Regions from separate parts of the Homo sapiens genome. Here region 2 is linked to region 1. Evidence: fine-mapped expression QTL. A gene starts in region 1. The other region holds a variant in brackets. All regions are shown on one strand. Distances are from middle to middle.

The links.
Region 2: its variant is fine-mapped to the expression of B3GALNT2 in fibroblasts (GTEx, PIP above 0.99).

What each region holds. Positions count from the first base shown.
Region 1 is chr1:235,500,072-235,508,778 of GRCh38, forward strand. It overlaps B3GALNT2 (beta-1,3-N-acetylgalactosaminyltransferase 2), which reads right to left and starts at 4,381. Exons shown (of 12, transcript NM_152490.5): 1 at 4,070-4,381. The coding sequence starts at 4,181. RefSeq lists a silencer at 3,910-4,549 and enhancers at 4,483-5,159, 4,860-4,979.
Region 2 is chr1:235,349,458-235,358,164 of GRCh38, forward strand. No RefSeq gene overlaps it. Among named protein-coding and RNA genes, the nearest start is that of TBCE, 14 kb to the right of the region's middle. The variant A/G (reference allele first, on the strand shown) is at 3,373.

The DNA of each region.
Region 1 (8,707 bases):
TTGGGGTATTGTTTTCTTCTGAGACCCTACAGTAAGAACTATTTCTTTTCTTAATATGTAATATATCCTGAGAGTCTGGCAACCTGCTCAACCCTGCACTGTGAGTGGACATCCAAAGGTATATTAAAGTCTAAGGGAGGGCCTGGCGCAGTGGCTCATGCCTGTAATCCTAGCACTTTGGGAGGCCGAGGTGAATGAATCGCTTGAGGTCAGGAGTTCGAGACCAGCCTGGCCAACATGGCAAAACGCAGTCTCTACTAATAATACAAAAATTAGCTGGGTGTGGTGGCACACACATGTAACAGAGGCTGAGGCAGGAGAATGGCTTCAACCCGGAGGCAGAGGTTGCAGTTAGTCAAGATGGTGCCACTGCACTCCAGCCTGGGCGACAGAGTGAAACTGTGCCTCAAAATAATAATCAAAAAAGTCTAAAGAAGGTTGACATCAAAATTGATTGCTCAAAATAAGCCCAAGAGTCTTAAAAATCACACCAAAATTCCACTCTGATATGCATGCTCTTGGAAGAGTCACAAATAGATACAAATCTTGAAAATGAAGAAAACATGTGAGCCTGTCACAGATCTAATGATAAAGACAATCATCATACACACTACCAAAGACACCTCCCAAAACACCACACTAGCACAGGCATCAGCGGCCACCAGACTACCACTCCTCTCTCAAACTCATGGAGTGTTTACTATGAAACAGGCACTGTTGCGGGTGTTTCATTAATTGAATCTTCACAATAAGTCTATGAGATCATCATCTTATAAATAAGGAAACTGAAGCACAGAGACACAATTAGCATATAGGGATAATTTTGGAAGAACTCACCCCAGGCAAAATTACAAAGCAAGCTCAATTTGTTTTCTGACCTTCTACTTGCTCTACATCTGTTTCCATTAGATACTGTGAGCACCTTGGGAGAAGGGACTAGGCATCCAGCACAGAATCTAACACTCAAGTACTTGTTGAGTGAATATGCTCCTTTGTTTTGGTTTCTTTCTTTCCAGATACCCTAGAAAGCGAAGCCTTCTTTTGTCACATCATTTTTCTAAATTAACCGTTAAATAATTCCTACTTAAGGCATTACCCAAAACGAGCATTTTGTAATCAAGATATCCTATGTTTAGATTCCTTAGTCCGATGGTTATCTCCACCTGCATTTTCCTCTGTCACCCTCAGGTGTACTGGATTTCACTTCCTCTTTACCAGTTGCTTTCCCTGACTGGTTTAAGGGAACCTATCACATTAAAAAAGTTGCTGACTCTGGTACTAAGGTGACTCACTTACTTCATTCTGGTCCCTGCTCAACTGTTACCTCTTCAGAATGGAATGGACTTCCCTGACCTATTTAAAACCATCTCTTTAATCTCTTAACACTGCTTTATCTTTTTTCCCTATACTTATCACTACCGCTGTGATATTTATAATTATTTCCTGATGCTCTGTCTTCCCTTCTAAATTGTAAACTACATGAGGGCAGGAAGTTTAGCTTGATTACTGCTGTAATTCCACACCTACGATAGGAGCTGGCACAGAGTAGGCTCTCAAATATTTGCTGAATCAACTGCGAGCCAAAGAACCTTTTTTAATATTCAGGGAAGGTAAATCGCTCTTTCAAAAAAAACAAAGAAACTGCCATTACTTAATGAGACTGAAGACAGACAAAGCAGCAGAAGAGAAAAAAAAATACATTTAAAAATGTTAATTCAAGAAAAGAATACTTAGCAAAATCTTGGGTTTTTTTTTCTCCTGTTAGGCTTAAAGTACAAGGGTTAAAATGTAAAAACACCCAACTATTTTAGTTTCAACATGGTGACAGCACAATGGTAAAGGAATTATGGGAAATTTTAGCATTTAAGATGCTTCCACTGCTTTTAGCTTTGAAAGTACCAAAAGGAAAAAAGGAAAGGTAGGAGTCAGTCTTGTTTAATTAATTAATTAATTATTTTGAGATGGACTTTCGCTCTTGTCACCCAGGCTGGAGTGCAGTGGCGCAATCTCGTCTCACTGCAACCTCCGCCTCCGAGGTTCAAGTGATTCTCCTGCCTCAGCCTCCTTAGTAGCTGGGATTACAGGCATGCACCACTATGCCCGGCTAATTTTTGTATTTTTAGTAGAGACGGGGTTTCGCCATGTTGGCCAGGCTGGTCTTGAACTCCTGACCTCAGGTGATCCACCCACCACGGCCTCCCAAAGTGTTGGGATTACAGGCGTGAGGCACCGCGCCGGGCCAGTCATGTTTAACTTAGATTATTAAAATATCGATGGTTGACAGCTGCAGCAAACCACCATGGCACACGTTTACCTATGTAACAAACTTGCACGTCCTGCACACGTATCCCGGAACTTAAAAAAAAATCCCATTTATTATCTGACCAGATACACAGTACTCATTCAAAGCCAAAGTTAATTAACATAACTAGTATTGATCTTCTTACCTACGTTATTACCCTGTTCCTTTCTATGGTCTACTTCTTCATTTCCTTAATCTAGCCTGGTCTAACTACTGGATGGCAGATAAAGGCATCATCCTTCAAGTGCAGTAAGGGAGTAGGAAAAACTTGTCTCAAACTAGAAAACTGCCTAGCAAGTCTACTAAGATTTCAGTTTGAAGTCTACTAACATTTCAGTTTTTGTTTGTTTTACTGAACCCTAAACAACCATTAAGGCCATAAACAGACTTAATGACGCTCTACAAGGAGATTCCAGCAGGGCTCACTCATAACAAAAGAGAGAAACCTGTAACACACAAGCAGCTGTTACAAAGCATTTTTTATATATGGCGTTCTCTTCTTAGTTCACTTCACAAAAACCTAAAAAACACTGAGCAAAACCCTGACCCCATCAACTGGTTAAGTGCATAGCAACACTGTACTTTCATTAAATCACTTAAATAGTGTTTAATTCTATTCAGGTCACACAAATCCTTTTCAAAGAGCTAGTGATCTAATAGGAAAAGAGATTGTTACCAAAATAACCTCAACATAATTTCATATAACTGAGACTGTTTTGAGGATTGCCGAATACTTTCTACTTATAAGGCATAGAGTGCTGAACTGCAAACACTCAATTCTAATTTTAAGAACTTTTGGATTAGAAAACAGCTGTTTTGGGGAGAGATGGTAAGGGAAAAAAGTCCCAGTATAGTTACAAAATTAAGTATTACATAATATTTAAAAGAGCTTTCTAGGTTTCTTTCATGTTCTAGGGCAAGCCCTTAAAGAAGAAGACAAGAGATACAGGGAAAGCTAAAGTAGTGTTCAGGGTGGTGGAACCCACTAACAAAACAATCCGCTGGGCACCGTAAGTAAAGCATTCTATTAGGCTGTGACGCGAAACAAGAACAAAGGTTTCATTCCTACGAGAGATTAAGTTTTAGAGCAAATGGACACGATCGTTAAAGAATTTGATATTTCCATGTAAACTGCATTAGCAGGTTATGCGATCCAAACTCACAGGAACAACTCCAACTCTCGGCCATGCCCTATTTCATGTCTAGATTTGTTTAACCGACTTACATCATAATCCAAGAATACGAACTACAGTATATTCTTACAGCAAAGTTATTCCTTAAAAGCAAAACCGAGCCACCTTTGAAAACACGCACACACATTATCCACGGCACTAAAACCCCAGTCTTGACCGAGAAAGACCAACAACTTGGGGGGGAAGAAAACAACTTCAGAGCCAGAGCTCCCAAAGCAGAAAGCGCTGGCGGCTGAAGGGCACACGAGGTTCCGCTCCCGGGCGAACGGGCGGCGTCGGACATCACTAACCAGGCCTGGGGACAGGCGAAGGACTTGCAACTGCGGGCGCCGGCTCTGCGGGCGTTAAGGGAAACGGGGAAGTGAGAAGAGGCGGGGACACGAAAAGAGAAAAGCTCCCTCAAGTTTGCCCGATGTTAACGCTCCAAGGATGAAAAGAGCCGTTTGTTTCGTCTGGGGACCGTCGCGTTTGGCCCTTCCCCCGCCTCCAACAATTCCCGGCGAAGCCCCGCGGCACCAAGCCGGGCCTCCCACCCCCCCGGCGGCCGCCAACCCGCCCGGCCCCAGGACCTCACCTGCAGGGCCGGCCCCGGAGGCGCAGGCGGGCGGCGGGGAGCGCAGCCGCAGCCAGAGGTGCAGCGCGGCCCCGAGCACACACGGGCACAGCAGCACCAGCCAGTTTCGCATTGGCCGCCCCCGCCGCGAGCCGGGCTCTCCCGCGTCCCGGCGGAGAGGGAGGGGACCTGCAAGTGCGGAGACTGAGGGGCGGCGGCTGACGAGCGACCACTCCGAGCACGCCCGCCCTCGCGCTCGGCGACGTCTGGGGGGCTCCTCGCAGCTCCCGGCCCCGCTCCTCCGGTCCCTCAGACCGCGGGTGGCCGCGGCTTAGCCGGCCGAAGCCCCGCCCCCTCCGCCTGGCCTTCCCACCGGCTCCGCCCACCTTTTCTCCCACTCGCCCCGCCCTCTCCTCCCGCGTTTCCACACGCGCCAGCCAGCCGGCCGGGAGCTGAAGTCCCGCTCTGGGCCCAGGCAGGGGGCGCCCGCGGTTTAGAAACCACATTTCCCATGAGCCTAAGCACGCGCTTCCGTCACTCGGCGGCCGCGGGGGCGAAGGGCGAGGCCCCACACAGAGCATGCGCATCCCCCTTGACGTTTGCTGCCACCCCACGGCCCAGGGGAGGTAGTGCCGGAGACCCGGTGCTCGGAGGCTGCCCGGAGCCGCGAAGGGAAATGCGCTTTGCCTCAGATTTGAAGGAAATCCGAGTGGCTCTTGTGTGAAATCACGCAGAGCTCCTTTGTTCCGCGTGCTCTCTTGCTCGACTGCTGTGGGAGGTGGGATCCTGCTGACGTCTCCTTGGCCCGTAGAGTGGGGCGAGGAAGCCCGAGTGTCCGCGCCTGGAGCGGTGACTCATCAGGGATTAGCTCTGGTGCCGTGGGTTCCCGGCTCTTTGCCCGGTTCTGTGCTCTGGGAACGCAGGGTGACAGACAGCGAGCTGGGGACTAGGCTGTGGAACACGATGATGACGAGCCAATCAGGGTAGAACTGCACGTGCTCCGGGTTCATACTGGAGCTGGGAGCGAAACGGGAGCCGGGCGAGCTGGGAGAACGTGGGCTCCGGGGACCTGGGGAAGGGTGGCCGCAGCGAGCCTTCCAGGGAGAACGCCGGCCCCGCGTCTTGAGGCTTTGCCCCGGGTGGGAGCCCTCCTGGCCCACCAGGCCCGCGCCGAGGCAGCCGGAAAGCGGGGACGGGGCGGTGAAGGCACTGGGGTGAGGATGGGAGAGAAGGATGAGAACGAGCGGCTGGGCTATGGGGCGGTTTTTGTTTCTGCTTTTGTTTTTGAGACGGAGTCTCACTCTGTCACCCAAGCTGTAGTGCAATGGCGCGATCTCGGCTCGCTGCAACCTCCGCCTCCTGGGTTCAAGCGATTCTCCTGCCTCAGCCTCCTGAGTGGCTGGGATTACAGGCGCCCGCCACTGCGCCCAGCTAATTTTTGTATTTTTTTTGTAGAGACGAGGTTTCGCCATGTTGGCCAGGCTGGTCTCCAGCTCCTGACCTCAGGTGATCCGCCCGCCTCGGCCTCCCAAAATGCTTGGATTACAGGCGTGAGCCACCGCGCTCGGCCGCGGTTTTTTTTTTTTTTTTTTTAAGTTTCCACAAGTGTGGAAACAGAAGGTGACTGTATTATTGAAAAAAAGTCTTGGATGACAGAAGACCCAACTCAAACAGGCTTAAGGGAAAAAAGTACTTTGGCTCGCCGTGGCTCATGCGTGTAATCCCAGCACTTTGGGAGGCCGAGGTGGGCGGATCACTTGAGGGCAGGAGTTCGAGACTAGCCTGGGTAACATGGTGAAACCCTGTCTCTACTAAAAATACAAAAATTAGTCTGGCGTAGTGGTGGGCACCTGTAGTCCCAGCTACTCAGGAGGCTGAGGCAGGAGGATCGCTTGAACCCAGGAGGCGGAGGTTGCAGTGAGCCGAGATCGCGCCATTGCACTCCAGCCTGGGTGACAGAACGAGACTCTGTCTCAAAAACAAACAAACAAACAAAAAAAAAATAAAAAGAAAAGGCAAGAAAGTAATAATTGGTTGCCAGAAAAAGTATACTATTTTTATCCTCAGGAAAGGTAGTAAATGGCCTCTGTTGATATTGTAAAATTTTCATTTTGTGAATTAGAATGAGTTATCCTAAAAAGAGGACTAATCCCTCATTTCAGCAGAGCTAGTCATTCGACAAATACTTATTGAGTGTCTATTATGTACCAGACACTTTTGTAGGTACTTTAGATACACCAGTGAACAAAATAAAGATCCCTATCCTGTGTTGATGGGGAGTAGGGCGCAGACTATAGACATAATAAAGAAATATACTCAACCAGCATGTTAGAAGGTTATTCCTGCTCTGGAAAATATAACAATTAGGGCCGGGTAGGGGAATTGTGAGTGTGGGATTGAAATGACACAGATTGCAGTATCAACTAGCAGTATTTAAACAACTGTTCAAAGTTACAATGAGCACTAAAGGGAAGAATAAACATAAGTCATCCGAATATATTAAATAATCAAGGTGTTGTTTCACTTAACAACCTAGAGGGGAAGTTTTTCACTGGCTCTCTGACAAGCTTGTAACAAAAATAGTTTTGAATAACTTTGTAACATCCTTCAAATCACATCAGAGTGGGAGCTGTCTATAGTACTTGTTCATAGGACCAGTGACCTTTCCACTTACCTGTTTTCTACTGTCCCCTAATAATCTCATGACTAAAGTGAGTGAAGATTGCAAGACAGTAATTCCTGTAATCCCAGCACTTTAGGAGGCTGAGGTGGGAGGATCACTTGAGTCCAGGAGTTCAAGACCAGCCTGGGCAACATAGCAAGACCTCGTCTCTACAAAAAATTAACAATTAGCTGGGCATGGTGGTATACGCCTATAGTTCCAGCTACTCGGGAGGCTGAGGCAGGATGATCACTTAAGCCCCAGAGTTCAAGGTTAGAGTGAGCTATGATCACACCACAGGACTCAGTCTGGGTGACAGAGTGGGACCTTGTTTCTAAAAAAAAAAAAAAAAGGTAAAAGTGACAGTATGTGTAATGGAAAGAATAAAAAAACTCAGTAGTGATATAAACAGTCTGTGCACTCAAGGGGCTCATAGGGTAAGTAGGAACAAGTTAACAGAATTAGAATTAGGGAGAGACAAACTAGGGTGGTTGGTAACCATGATGGCAATTCAATGTGATAAGTGCTCTGAGAAAGGAATGCACAGGATGTTAGAGCAGCACAAAGCAGGGGGTACAGCTGTCTCTACTCATGGGGGATTGGTTCTGGACCTTCTATGGATACCAAAATTCATGGATGCTCAAGTCCCTTATATAAAATGGTATAATATTTGCATATAACATACACACATCCTCTCATATACGCGAAATCATCTCTAAATTACTTATAACACCTAATATGATGTCTACGCATCACTTCATTCACGTGGATTCAATGGCATGCGCAAATTCAAGTTTGCTTTTTTCCTGAATTTGAGGTTGGTTGAATTCATAGATGCAGTACCCAGGGATATGGAGGGCCAACTATATTTAACTCTACTCAAGGGTCCCCAGAGGAGGCTATCTCTTGAAAATACAGGGCCGGGGCTTGAAGTCAAAGTGGCCAGTTAACAGGGCCAGAAAGTAGGAAGGACATTCAAGAGCACTGTAGGCAAAAAAATAAAAAATAAAATAAATAAACCTGAGCTAGTGATGACACGGCAATTAGGGAAATGTAAGCAATTGGTATGACCTTAGTGCAAGTTAGGAACACGGCAATGATGAGAAGGTGAACAGAAGGCAGAGGCCAGGTTGTAATCATAAACTTTGCTAAGGAATTTGGACTTTATTGTGAAGGCTCTAAAGAAGAATTTTTTTTTCTGATTACCAATGTAATACATGATTATGAAAAGGATCTTGGAAAACAGAAGAATATAAGAAATCATACTACATACAATTCATACATTTTTTAAAAGTTTTTTCATTAAAAAAATTTGCCATTCATACTGTAAGTTAGAATTTATATCCAACTATTTTCACCTAACCTATAAGCCTTCCCATATTTAATTAGTAGTCTCAGAAAATATAACTTAATCATTTGTCCACACTATAATTTCTTATCTGGTCCCGTATTATTGGACATACAGGTTGTTTCCATTATTCCACTATAATAAGTAATACTGGCACTTCTGTGCACAAAACTTTTTCCACATTTCAGATAATTTCCTTTTCTGATATTATTTTTAAGCCGCTTTATTCATACTGCTATTGTTTCAATGTGTATGTCTGCCTTCAATATGTTTCTCTTATCTCACCCTCATATTTTAAAAAAGTTCTTTATTAATTCAAAGGACAAAACTTTTCATCAATGAGATTGAATATTCTTATGTTCGTTAGCTGTTTCTATTTCTTTTGTTAATTAGTCATGTATCTTCCTTTTATCCATTTGTATAAGCCCTTTATTTTTCCTCAGTTTTCTTGCCTTCTAATTTTATAACTTTTAGGACACAAAAACACTTTAAATTTTTATAAATTCAAATGATCAATATTTAATTTTTTTCCATATTTTAGGATGATTCTGATCGTGAGATCTGGTCAATATTCTTGTTTGTTTTATTTAATGTTTTAATCCATTTGGAATTTATTTAGGAATATGGTGTAATGCAAGGATCTCAAAAT
Region 2 (8,707 bases), 150 kb before region 1:
AAAATACAAAAATTAGCCAGGCATGGTGGTTCACACCTGTAATCCCAGCTACTTGGGAGGCTGAGACACAAGAATCGCTTGAACCTGGGAGGCGGAGGTTGCAGTGAGCCAAGATCATGCCACTGCACTCCAGGCTGGGTGACAGAGCGAGACTCCGTCTCAAAAAAAAAAAAAAAAAAGCAAACAAATGGCCAGACGCAGTGTCTCACACCTGTAATCCCAGCACTTTGGGAGGCCGAGGCAGGTGGATCACCTGAGGTCAGGAATTCGAGACCAGCCTGACTAACATGGAGAAACCCCACCTCTACTAAAAATACAAAATTAGCCGGGCGTGGTGGTGCCTGCCCTGTAATCCCAGCTACTCGGAGGCTGAGGCAGGAGAATCGCTCAAACCCGGGAGGCAGAGGTTGGGGTAAGCTGAGATCTTGCCATTGCACTCCAGCCTGGGCAACAAGAGCGAAACTCTGTCTCAAAAAAAATAGTAAAAATTAGGCCGGGTGCGGTGGCTCACGCTTGTAACCCCAGCACTTTGGGAGGCCGAGGCGGGCGGATCATGAGGTCAGGAGATCGGGACCATCCTGTCTAACACGGTGAAACCCCGTCTCTACTAAAAATACAAAAAATTAGCTGGGCGTGGTGGTGGGCGCTTGTAGTCCCAGCTACTTGGGAGGCTGAGGCAGGAGAATGGCGTGAACTCGGGAGGCAAAGCGTGCAGTGAGCCAAGATGGCGCCACTGCACTCCAGCGTGGGCGACAAAGCAAGACTCCGCTTCAAAAAAAAAAAAAAAAAAGTAAATTAAAATAAATTAAATAAATTAAAATAATTAAAATAAATTAAAATAAATTAAAATAAAATTGTAGCATTGTATAAATGAGTTAGCACTAAAGATAAAATATATACAATTTAAGACAGTATTATAACGATTAAGAAAAAATCTGAGTATAAATTCTGATAGTTCAGAGGAAGGCAAGAGAGGATCCAGCACCGTGAGAATGTCATTAATATTGGGAGAAATTCTCAATTTATTGAGACTGAAAGTCACCTATGAGTATCAATTTAATGAGGAAGTTGGAAGAATTTGATGCAGTTTCCTGTGTCACATCATGGCTCCAATAGGAATATATTATTTAGCTAGTGACTGCTGCAACAAACCAAAGATCACACCAGTAATTCCCAGCTGGCTTGGAATGTCATAGCATATATGGACAATTAATGTTTCCTGACTTACTGGATCTGTTCTTTCAGCCCATCTTGCACACAACTGCCAGATTAATATTACTGCTTTTTATGTTGAATACCTCTGTTCAAAAATCCTTTGTAGGACAAACACCTTAGCTTCACTGTCAAAGCTCTCTATAATCTGCTTCCCGTCTTATCTCCCATCATTCCTTAATAGGGTTTACTTCACCTAACCCTATCTATTCATTCTTAACTAAAGATATCCAGCCAGGTGCAGTGGCTCAAGCCTGTAATCCCAGCATTTTGGGAGGCCGAGGCAGAAAGATCGCTGGAGGCCAGGAATTCAAGACCAACCTAGGCAAAATGAAGAAACCTCATCTCCACAAAAAATAGACATAAAAAAATTAGCCAGTTGCTCCTGCATGTGTCTGTCAGGTGAATCCCTTGAAGTCAGGAGTTCAAGACCACCATGGCCAACATGGCAAAACCCCATCTCTACTAAATATGCAATAATTAGCCGAGTGTGGTGGCACATGCCTGTAGTCCCAGCTACTCAGGAGACTGAGGCAGGAGAATCCCTTGAACCCAGGAGGTGGAGGTTGCAGTGAGCCAAGATGGCGCCACTGCACTCCAGCCTGGGCAACGGAGCGAGACTCTGTCTCAAAAAAAAAAAAAAAAAAAAGATATCCTACAAGTTCTCACATTCATGCCTGTATTCATAATATGTCTGACATGTTTCCCTAGCCACTCATTAAATTTGCTGTATCTCTAACTTAAAGTTGTAATTTCTTGCTGAAGACCTCTCCAAATCAAAATGTCTATAATAAATAACAATGTAACTAAAAGAAACAAACCAATCCCCTTCACCCAGATAGAAAACGAGTAAGAGAATGGCCTTAGCTAAGTATTTCGTAGAGACCTTACAAAGCAAAACTTAAATATGGCCTTTGGTTAACTAATGGCCTTTCAAAGGCTATGACTGACTTAATACAAGGTCTTTTTGTTATGCCTTACAGACCAATTGCACTCTGCTGGTGAGACGCTGACTTCATAGTAAGGCAGCTGGAAAACATCTCTTTAACATGGATTCATGGCAGGATTTTTCCAATTCAAATAATGTACCATGTCCTTTAAAAGAAAAACAATACTCTTGGACCTCTACTGTTGACCTAGTTTTTTTTGTTTTACTAAATATATACTTAATATATAAAAGGTATACTTAATGCATAAAAAGGCATGAACTCTGTAGGTGCTATTAATACCCTTGTTTATTGGCTATTCTCCCATCCTAATTCTTCCTAATCACAGTTTAATTTCCTTTTGGTGAATTACCTCTCCCCAGTTGGGCACAGCCAAAGTAACCCATACAGAAGCCAAGGGGTATCAGGACATTGTTATATCTTTCCTCTCAGTGACCTGTACAGTCAAAGGTTGGATACATGACCTAATCTTGGCCAGTTGGACTGTCTCCAAGGAGATTCTTGAGTGGAGAAAACGCTTCACTTATCTGGCAGCATATGTTGGCCAAATGGTACCTGTTGCTGTGGTTCTTTGTCTCAGTTCTTTGTCTTGAACCTGAACCCGGTTCTCCTGCCCTCCTATTGTACTCTGAACTATCTAAAATCCTACTAATAAGTTAGTCAGGCTGGGCGCAGAGGCTCAAGCCTATAATCCCAGCACTTTGGGAGGCTGAGGCAGGCAGATCACCTGAGGTCGGGAGTTCAAGACCAGTCTGACCAACATGGAGAAACCCTGTCTCTACTAAAAATACAAAATTAGCCAGATATGGTGGCGCATGCCTATAATCCCAGCTACTCGGGAGGCTAGGGCAGGAGAATCACTTGAACCTGGGAGGGGGAGGTTGCAGTGAGCTGAGATCATGCCACTGCACTCCAGCCTGGGCGACAAGAGCAAAACTCTGTCTCAAATAAATAAATAAATAAATAAATAATAAGTTAGCCAGATCTCCCAGCTACATGAAGACAAAAAGAAAGCAAAAGATTCTATAAGAGATTATATAGTAAGTTACTATTTGTGAAAAAAAAAAATAAGGCCAGAAGCGGTGGCTCACGCCTGTAATCCCAGCACTTTGGGAGGCCAAGGTGGGCAAATCACCAGGTCAGGAGTTTGAGACCAGCCTGGCCAACGTGGTGAAACCCCATCTCTACTAAAAATACAAAAAAATAGCCGGGC[A/G]TGGTGGCGCGCGCCTGTAGTCCCAGCTACTTGGGAGGCTGAGGCAGCAGAATTGCTTGAACCCGGGAGGCAGAGGTTGCAGTGAGCCAAGATTGCACCACTGCACTCCAGCCTGAGAAACAGACCAAGACACTGTCTCAAAAAAAACAAAACAAACAAACAAAAAAAACAAAAGAAAGAAAGAAAGAAGGAAGGAAGGAAGGAAGGAAAAAGCCGGGCATGGTGGCTTACGCCTGTAATCCCAGCAATTTGGGAGGCCAAGGCGGGCAGATCACGAGGTCAGGAGTTCGAGACCAGCCTGACCAATATGGTGAAACCATGTCTCTACTAAAAATACAAAAATTAGCCAGGCGTGATGGCTAACACCTGTAATCCCAGCTACTCAGGAGGCTGAGGGAGGAGAATTGCTTGAACCCAGGAGGCAGAGGTTGCAGTGAGCTGAGAATGTGCCACTGCACTCCAGCCTGGGAGACAGAGTAAGATTCCGTCTCAAAAAAAAAAGAAAAATATTTGCACAAAATATCTAGGGGTAGGACCTGGGAGACAGAGGACTAGGAGGTGGGAGGAGCAAGAGAGACTTCTCACTGTATACCTATTTATTACTTTTCATTTTTTGGAAGCATGTGAACATGTCATCTATTCAAATATTGAAATTTAAAAAATAAAGGCACCAGTAAATGAGAAAACCAACAATAAATGCTAAGCAGATAATTTCAAGAGTGGCTACTTACATTGGGTATCCGGGGAAGACCTCTGAGGGAGTAGCATTTAAGCTGAGCTCTGAATGATAAGAAATTAGCTATACCACAATCCTAGTAAAGAACATTTGAAACCAAAGGAATAGCCAACAAAGGTCATAAGGTGGGAAAGAATGGTGCCAATATGTACAAAGCAACATAGGTATTAGATTGTGTAGGAATTTGTAAATCATAGAAAGGACTTTAGGTTGGGTTTTTTTTTTTTTTTTTTTTTTTTTTTTTTTTTTTTGAGATGAAGTCTCGCTCTTGTCCCCCAGGCTGGAGTGCAGTGGCGCGATCTCGGCTCACTGCGACCTCTGCCTCCCGGGTTCAAGCGATTCTCCTGCCTCAGCCTCCCGAGTAGCTGGGATTACAGGCACCTGCCACCACACCCGGCTACTTTTTATATTTTTAGTAGAGACGGGTTTTCACTATATTGGCTAGGCTGGTCTCAAACTCCTGACCCCAGGTGATCCACCTCCCTCGGCCTCCCGAAGCGCTGGGATTACAGGCATGAGCCACTGCGCCCAGCCAGACTTTAGGTTTTAAAACTAACTGCAACTTGAAGCCGATGGATGGTTTTAAGAAAATGAGTAAGGCCAGGTGCCGTGGCTCACGCCTGTAATCCCAGCACTTTGGGAGGCCAAGGTGGGTGGACCACCTGAGGTCATGAGTTTGACACCTGAGGTCATGAGTTCGAGACCAGCATGACCAACATAGTGAAACCTCATCCCTACTAAAAATACAAAATTAGCTGGCCGTGGTAGCACATGCCTGTAATCCCAGAAACTTGGGAGGCTGAGGCAGGAGAATCACTTGAACCCAGGAGGCAGAGGTTGCAGTGAGGGAAGATTGTGCCATTGCACTCCAGCCTGGGCAATAAGAGTGAAACTCCATCTCAAAAAAGAAAAAAAAAAAGAAGAAGGGGAGTAAAGGCCAGGCGCAGTGGCTCACACCTGTAATTCCAGCACTTTGGGAGGCTGAGGCAGGCGGATCATGAGGTCAGGAGTTCGAGACCAGCCTGGCTAACATGGTGAAACCCTGTCTCTACTAAAAATACAAAAAATTATCCAGGTGTGGTGGTGTGCGCCTGTAATCCCAGCTACTCGGGAGGCTGAGGCAGGAGAATTGCTTGAACCCAGGAGGCGGAAGTTGCAGTGAGCTAAGATTGCGCCATTGTACTCCAGCCTGGGTGACAGAGCAAGACTCTGTCAAAAAAAAAAAAAAAAAAAGAAAGAAAGAAAGAAAAGAAGAGAGAAAAGAAAAGAAAAAAGAAGGGGAGTAACTAGATCTGAATTACCTTTATAAAAGATCATCCTGGCATCTGAGTGGATGATGGACTACAGAGAGTCAGAAGAGGAGGTAAGGAAACCAATTAGGAGGGTGTTTGAGTGTCCAGTGAGAGATGGTGGTAGCAGAGAACATGGTATGAAGTAGTTGAATTGGGGATTATTTAGAAAGTGGAGTTTATATGAATTACTGGTGGATAGGATGTAGAGTTAATGGAAAGAGGAGTCAAGGATGGTCTTTAGATTTTTTATAAGAAACTGAGTAGATGGTGATAAATCATAAATCAGACTTAGGAAGACAGGGAAAGGGTAGGTATTAGGGGGAAATTAGAGCTGCCTATCAAGCATCCAGGAGGAAATGTCACTGCATGCACAGGCTAGATTCAGGGGAGATTCAAGCAAGGCTGAAGTTAGATTTGTGGATCATTGGTGATCACTTAAGCCCAGGATTGGATAGGTTACCTAGAGATATTGTGTAAGAAAGAAAAGAAGGGGCCTCAGCACTGATCCTGGCATGCCACGTATAGGAGTATTTTTTTCTTTTCTTTTTTGAGATGGAGTTTCGCTCTTGTTGCCCAGGCTGGATTGCAATGGCACGATCTCAGCTCACCACAACCACCGCCTCCCGGGTTCAAGCAATTCTCCTGCCTCAGACTCCTGAGTAGCTGGGATTACAGGCATGTGCCACCATGCCCGGCTAATTTTTTGTATTTTTAGTAGAGACAGGGTTTCTCCATGTTATCAGGCTGGTCTCGAACTCCTGACCTCAGGTGATCCACCGGCCTCAGCCTCCGAAAGTGCTGGGAATACAGGCGTGAGACCCTGCGCCCAGGTTTTCTTTTTTTTTTTGAAACAGCTTTGCCAAGGCAAGATGGCTCCCATGCTGGTAATTCCAGCACTTTGGGATGCCAAAGAGGGAAGGATAGCTTGAGCCCAGGAGTTCAAGACCAGACCGGGCAACATAGTGAGACCTTGTCTCTAAATAAATAAATAAAAGCCAGGCATAATGATGCACACCTGTGGTCCCAGCTACTTGAAGGCCAAAGCGGGAAGATTGCTTGAGGTCAGGAGATGGAGACCACCCTGGGCAATATAGTGAGACCTTGTCTCTACAAAAAAAATTTAAAAATTAGCCAAGCGTGATGGCAAGTGCCTATAGTCCCAGCTACTCGGGAGGCTGAGGTGGAAAGATTGCTTGAGCCCAGGAGGTTGACGTTGCAGTGAGCCAAAATTACAACACTGCATTCCAGCCTGGGCAACAGGGCAAGACACTGGCTCCAGAAAAAAAAAAAAAAAAAAAAAAGGTTGGATCTGCTGGCTCACACTTGTAATCCCAGCATTTTGGGAGGCCGAGGCGGGTAGATCACCTGAGGTCAGGAGTTTGAGACCAAAAAATAATAATAATGATAAATAAATAAATAAATAAAAGAAAAAAACAGACAAACAAAGAGTTCAAGACTAGCCTGGCCAACATGGTGACATGGTAAAACCCTGTCTCTACTAAAAATACAAAAGTTAGCCAGGGGCTGGGCACAGTAGCTCATGCCTGTAATTCTAGCACTTTGAGAGGCTGAGGTGGGTGAACCACTTGAGGTCAGGAGTTTGAGACCAGCCTGGCCAACATGGTGAAACCCCACCTCTACTAAAAATACAAAAATTAGTCAGGTGTGGTGGTGCATGCCTGTAGTCCCAGCTATTTGGGAGGCTGAGGCAGGGGAATTACTTGAACCCAGGAGGTGGAGGTTACAGTGAGCCAAGATCGAGCCACTGCACCCCAGCCTGGGCTACGGAGCGAGACTCCATCTCAAAAAAAAAAAAAAAAAGTTAGCCAAGCGTGGTGGCACACACCTGTAATCCCAGCTATTCAGGAGGCTGAGGCACAAGAATGGCTTGAACCCAGGAGGTGAAGGTTGCAGTGAGCCAAGATCGTACCACTGCACTCCTGCCCGGGCAACAGAGCGAGACTGTCTCAAAAATAAATAATTAAATAAATAAACCTGCCAATAGCTTCTATGACCCAAAGATGAGATGCCCCTGGCCACCTCTAAAATCTCCTACAAGCTGATGTAACTATGAGAATTAAAGAGGACCCAAAACTGACTGAGATCAAATTTTCTGCTAGTCTTGCAAGATGGAGGTAGAGGAAGAATATACATTCTCTTCAGGATGCTGGACTGAGCGTGTGTTATTTTTTTCTCCCTTTTCAGAGAACACTAAAAGGAAAGTAAAAGAATAAAAAGGTTAATACAGCAAAATATAATTGAGAATGGGAAGGGCTAATTATGATCCATGTTAGTGAGTAAGAAATTTCAGGAAATTTCTTGGCCAGGCATGGTGGCTTATGCTTGTAAAACCAGCACTTTGAGAGGCTTAGGCAGGCAGATCACTTGAGGTCAGGAGTTTGAAACCAGCCTGGCCAACATGGCAAAACCTCTACTAAAAATGCAAGAAGTAGCCAGGCGTGGCGGTGCACACCTGTAATCCCAGCTACTAGGGAGGCTGAGGCGGGAGAATCGCTGGAACCTGGGAAGCCGAGGTTGCAGTGAGCCAAAATTGTGCCACTGCACTCTTGCCTGTGCGACAGAGCAAGACTCTGTCTCACAAAAAGAAAAAAAGAAGAAGAAGAAGAGAGACTAAAATGCAGAGACTGCAAGACTGCCCTTCAAAATGGAAGAGAGAGGCAGAATTGAGTTCTCTGCTTCAGAGTCACAGGCTGCAATCCAGGTGTCAGCCAGGTCTGGGTTCTCCTCAGAGGCTCTAGCAGGGAAGGATCCAATTTCAGGCTCCCTCGGCTTGGTAGAATTCATTTGCTTTCAGCTGTAGGATTCACAGTAGATTGCTTCCTCGAAGCCAGGAAGAAAGACAGAGACCCACACAGAGAGACAGGCAGGCTCTAGTGTCAGGCAGCTAACAAGACAGTCTTATAAAAATGTAATCATAGGAATGACATCCCATTATTTTTATCATTGTCTATTGGTTAAAAGCAAGTCACAGACCCTGCCCACACTCAAGGAAAGGGGATTAGGGAATTATACGGGGCTGAATACCCGGAGGCAGGGGTCACAGGGCCACCTTAAAGTCTGTCTCAAGTGGGTATTGTTTTGTTTTGTTTCATTTTGGCATTGGTAAGGAAGAGGGTATCAAAAGGTAGGGGCAGCTGCCTGTACATTGGATGAAAATATGCTGAAATTGATGGGGGCGAGTCCAGTCTAACCCCACCCCAACTCTGACTTCAGTCATGCCAAAGAAAGAGATATGGAGATTGGAGCTATTTCCTCACCATTTTATAACTTAACTGCCTGCAGAGTA